Linked DNA regions of Homo sapiens: region 2 is linked to region 1. A link means that fine-mapping ties the variant in region 1 to the expression of a gene that starts in the linked region. Tissue or cell type: monocytes. Region 1 holds a variant in brackets; the other region holds the start of a gene. All regions are shown on one strand. Distances are between the middles of the regions.

The links. PIP is the estimated chance that this variant, and not a neighbour inherited with it, causes the effect.
Region 2: CDC42BPA starts here. The variant in region 1 is fine-mapped to the expression of CDC42BPA in monocytes (Quach 2016, PIP 0.95).

The regions. Positions count from the first base shown.
Region 1 is chr1:227,392,442-227,395,201 of GRCh38, forward strand. LINC01641 (long intergenic non-protein coding RNA 1641) reads left to right here and starts at 1,113. Exons shown (of 4, transcript NR_187381.1): 1 at 1,113-1,263. The variant AT/A (reference allele first, on the strand shown) is at 1,617.
Region 2 is chr1:227,317,249-227,320,008 of GRCh38, forward strand. It overlaps CDC42BPA (CDC42 binding protein kinase alpha), which reads right to left and starts at 1,244. Exons shown (of 37, transcript NM_001394014.1): 1 at 1-1,244. It overlaps LOC124904531 (a long non-coding RNA gene), which reads left to right and starts at 1,344. Exons shown (of 2, transcript XR_007066911.1): 1 at 1,344-1,750; 2 at 1,866-2,760.

The DNA of each region.
Region 1 (2,760 bases):
CCAGCACTTTGGGAGGGTGAGGCGGACGGATCACCTGAGGTCAGGGGTTTGAGACTAGCCTGGCCAACATGGTGAAACTCCATTTCTACTAAAACTGCAAAAATTAGCCAGGCGTGGCGGGTGCCTGTAATTCCAGCTACATGGGAGGCTGAGGCAGGAGAATCGCTTGAACCCGGGAGGCAGAGGTTGCAGTTAGCCGAGATCACGCCACCGCATTCCAGCTTGGGTGACAGAGTGAGACTCTGTCTCAAAAAAAAAAAAAAAAATCCAATATAGCTAAGAGAAGACACATAGCTATTATAAATAGAGATATGTGATCACCTACCCATCCAAGTTTTAAAAATAGTCTTAAGTGCTATTCCCTCGAAGATCTGTAGAATTTGCTTTAAAAATAAATATCGGTTGGGCATGATGGCTCACATCCGTAATCCCAGAACTTTGAGAGGCTGAGGTGGAAGGATGGCTTGAGGTCAGGAGTTCAAGACCAGCCTGGGCAACATAGTAAGACCCGCCCCCCCACCCCATCTCTCCAAAAACATTTTTAAAAAATTGACCAGGCATGCTAGTACATGCCTGTAGTTTCAGCTCCTTGGGAGACTGAGGCAGGCAGATTGCTTGAGCCTGGGATTTCGAGGCTTCAGTGAGTTATGATGGCACCACTGCACCCAGCCTGGGCAACAGAATGAGACTCCATCTCCAAAAATAATAAATAAATAAATAAATAAATAAATAAATAAGTATTCTTTTTTATAGTGCAATGATCTGTGATTTTATATATCTGTGGGTGCAATTGTATCTCTTTATGATTCCTAATATAGTTTATTTGTGCTCTTTTGTTTCTTTATCAGTCTTATTAAAGATTGGGTAATCAAACCGGATTTTTTTCTTAAAACTAACTTTCATTTGTATTTATTTACTCTATTTTATGACTTTGGTTTCTATTTCAGCCTTTTCTGCCCTTATTTTTACTGATGCCTCCTTCTGTTATGGGTCAAATTGTGCCCCCTGCCCAAAGATAGGTTTAAGTTTCAATCTCCAGTACTTCAGAATGTGACTTTATTTGGCAACGGGGTCATTGCAGATGCAATTAGCTAAGTTCAGATGAGGTCATAGTGGAGTAGGGTGGGCCTCTAATCCAACAAGACTGGTGTCCTTAAAAGAAGAGGGAAATATGGACACAGACATAGACACAGAGGAAGATGATGTGAAGACACACAGGGAAAACATCATGTAAAGACAGGCTTGGAGTGGTGCACCTACAAGGTGAGGAACATCTGAAGCTGCCAGAAGTTGTGAGAGAGGCATGGAGTAATTCCTTTCCTAGCACCTTCAGAGGGAGCACGGCCCTGCCTATACTGATAACGATGGTTCAACTTACAATTTTTCAACTATACAATGCTTTAAAAGCAATTCAGTAGAAACTATACTTCAAGTAACCATGCAACTATTCAATTTTTCACTTTCGGTACAGTATTCAATAAATTACACAAGATATTGAAAAATAGGCTTTGTATTAGATGGTTTTGTCCAATGGTAGGCTAATGTATGTGTTCTGAGCACATTTAATTTAGGCTAAGCTAAGCTGTGATGTTTGGTAAGTTAGGTGTATTCAATGC[AT/A]TTTTTTTTTTTTTTTTTTGAGGTGGCGTTTCACTCCTGTCTCCCAGGCTGGAGTGCAATGGCACAATCTCGGCTCACTGCAACCTCCGCCTCCTGGGTTCACGCTATTCTCATGCCTCAGCCTCCTGAGTAGCTGGGACCACAGGCATGTGTCACCACACCCAGCTGATTTTTGTATTTTTAGTAGAGACGGAGTTTCAACATGTTGACCAGGCTGGTCTCTGGTCTTGAACTCCTGACCTCTGGTGATCTGCCCACTTCGTCTTCCCAAAGTGTTGGGATTACAGGTGTTAGCCACCACGCCTGGACGGATTTGGGGTTTTAAAAAATTCATTCTCACTTGGGAGGCCAAGGCGGGTGAATCACTTGAGGTCAGGAGTTTGAGACCAGCCTGACCAACATAGTGAAACCCTGTCTGTACTGAAAATACAGGTGTGGTGGCGTGTGCCTGTAATCTCAGCTACTTGGGAGGCTGAGGCAGAAGAATCGCTTGATCCTGATGGACTGGAGGTTGCAGTGAGCCTAGATCATGCCATTGCACTCCAACCTGTGTGACAGAGCGAGACTCTGTCTGGAAAAAAAAAATCATTCTGATAATCTCTTTTTGAAAGTCAATGTTTAACACGTTTATGGTTGCTGAGGCTAATGATAATGTTTCAACTTATTTTTAATTTTCTTATTTTTTCATCTTATGTTTATCATTCTTTGCTTATTTTTTCCTTTTTCCTTCCTTCTCTTGTGTTGAAAACATTTTCTATAGTCCTTTTTTCTTCTGCTGTTACTTTAGGAGCCAGACATGGTATCTTATTTATTTTAGTAGTTGTCCTCATAGTGTTAACTTGCATACTTAACAATTCCATATTCTAAGAACATCTAAATTATTAAATATTCCTCTTCTTTTTCCTTTCTAGAGTAGGAGAAGCCTGCCTTGCCTCTGGCTTCAAGTAGTGATAATTCAATTAATATTCAATCAATATTCAATTAATATTTCAATTAATATTTTTGGGGGGGACATAGTCTCACTCTGTTGCCAGGCTTGAGGGCAGTGGCGTGATCTTGAGTTTAAACAATTCTCCTGCCTCAGCCTCTTGAGTAGCTGAGATTACAGGCGTGTGCCACCACGCCCAACTAATTTTTGTATTT
Region 2 (2,760 bases), 75 kb before region 1:
AAATTTTAAAAGGTATGGTTTTAAAAATAAACCACTTGTTATTCAAACAACTGTCATGCAATGCTGGTGCTGAATTAAACATCCAACACACCAGTAACCTCACTTAACTGAAGCGTCTTCAATTTCACCCATATACATATATTTTGAGGGTAAATTACCATAAAATATATACTTAATGCATTTTTAAAAGAATACAATTAAGTCGTATATTTAAATAAAATAATAATTAAAAGTACAACGAACTAGAGAGTCAACACTTCTTTAAAAAAAAAAAAAAAAACTCTTCTCCTTCATTCAAAATTCAACTCGTGCAACGTAATCCTGAAACGAATCCGGTTGCATCATTAATGAATAAAGTCCGATTTGCATCAGCAATTCACTTCCCGGGAAGAAGAAAAACAGAAAAGGGAGGAAAAAAACAGAATGCATAGAAGGGGGAGGGAAAACCAAAAATGTTGCTGCAAATCCTCCCAACCACCACTTGGATAATGCATCAGCGGCAATTTCTCCAGCGGGAAAGGGAGGGGGCGAGGTCCCTGAAGCAGCCCCTCGGCTCGGAGCACGCCAAGTCTTGCCCGGAGGCGGCTTTTCGTTTCTCCTCCCGAGGTCCTTCTTTCTTTAAGGCTTTGCAGTCAGTCCTATTTTCAACGGATTCCGGTGAAAACTCTTCATTTTCCTCCCGGCTTCACCCTAGGGCCTGACCGGCGGCGCGGCCGGGGGTGGAAGGCGGGCTGCGGGCGGCACTGGCACCGGGCTCCGGAGAAGCGGCTACTTGGCCGCCCGAGCCCACTCCATGTCGGTGGTCGCTCGTGGGCCGAGCCGCGCCGCGCCGCGCCGGGCAGAGAGCCCGGTCTCCCCGACACCCGCACCGGGCCGCCGCGCCGGAGGCTCCCGACGCCCCAGGCGGGGGGGTGCTTCTCTGAATTCAAAGGACACAAGCAGCAGCAGCTGCGGCGGCGGCGCGGGCGGCTCTGGCAGCTACTTCTCCCCCTTCTTCACACCCCTGGGCTAAGGGCATCTTTCCACAGCGAGGAGGGAGGCGGCCCGGCGCAGGAGGAGGGGTCGCTTCCGCGGCTGAGGAGACTAGAGGCTGCGGCAGCCCGGCTCCCAACCACTCCCTTCCTCTCCCTTCCAGCCCTCCCCCGCCTTCCCTCTCCTCTCGCGCTCGCGCCCTGGGCTCAGCGAGGCTCCTCCAGTCCCGCCGCACAGAGGCGGAGGCTTGCGGACGAGTCTGGATCCAATATGGCGGCCTGGCCCCCCGGCCCCGGCACACGCGCGCGCACACGCCCTCCACTCCCCGCCCCCGCCCTGCCCGAGCCTCAGCCCCAGCCGGCGGCCAAGCCGGGCGGGGTCCGGCCGGCGCGCCCAGCGGAGGCCCCCAAGGGGGCGCGGGCTCGGGGCCCGAGTGGCTGCGCCAGCCCGAGGGGAGGGGTGTGGACTGCCTAGGCGGCGAGGCTGCGGCTGCCGCAGCGTGGAATGCGGAGCTGCGGGAGGGCTGAGGGAGGCCCGGGCGGCGGTGGCGGAGCATATGGAGGCGGGATGACCGGGCCGCGCCGGGAGCTGCGGCGGGACTGGGCGCAGGCTGGGAACTGCGCCACCGCCGCGCCGTGGCCCCGGCTCCCCGAGGCTTCTGGTGCAGATCGCGAAGGGGGGCTCCTGCTCGTCCTCGGAGACATCACCTGTCTGGCGCGTTTGTTAAGGGCGCCCAGAAGCAGAGGGCTTTAGGCTTCCGACAGAGCTGGAGGAGACGGTGCCTTTCAGCCCCTTACCTGCTCCCCACCGGCCCCCCAGATTCGGTTCGCGCACACTCCAGAGTAATCGTTTCTTAGGTGTCTAATTACAGCACTTCGTGTGTCATTTCCCAGGACAAAAACAATGACAGACTTGTCCGAGCTACCATCGAAGTCTTGGGTCTGCACGCAAAGGATGGAATCCCCCATCTCCATTCCCAAAAGTTTCCCTACGGGAGCCTGGTGTTGTCTCCTCCGGAACTGTCCTCGCGGCTGCCTGTTTTTCCCTAGCCATGGTTACTGCCTGCGGGGGATTCAGCCTGTGAAGGCAGTCAAGGCAGTTCACCACTGTCATCAAACCTACACCCCTGTGTGCATGCGCACACACACTTGTAACCCAGTGGCACAATGCAGGAATTAGGGAAGCAAAGGCAAATCGCTGAATAGCTAGGGCACCTGATCCCTGTAGGGCCCTTCCAGGTTTTTGTGAATCTCGGTTTTAGGAGAGCTCCCTTTATAAAATTCTCATGGAAGATGCCACATTTAAATTAACACCACAAAACTAGGTCATTGCAGTTCTGTTACTTTCTCTCAAAATTGCCATCTCCTTTATGGTCGTTCTCTAAAATACAATTATTTTATATTCCTTCCCCACACCTGTGAGGCGGTTGTGTTTCTATGTTCATGTCCACAATTGCATCTTACATCTTGATAATATGGAAGCTGAGGAAGAATTAGAAATGAGGGCCTAGACGTAAAATGAAGGCTAACAGAAGTCGATTCAAGTTGTGATTCATGAAATAGTGTGAATCTTTTATGAAATCTACAACGTCTACACTTGCCTGGCTTAAGAACAGCATTATTTTCAATGCGGTCTTGACATGAATGATACTTAGATTCAAACAAAAGGTCAGTCATTTCCAGCCATGACATCTTTATATGGGTGTGTGTTGTCTAATTCTAAAAGTAGTAGAAAAGTTTAATCCTAACACAGATAATAAGCAATATTTTGGTGTTTATTATTCAAGTC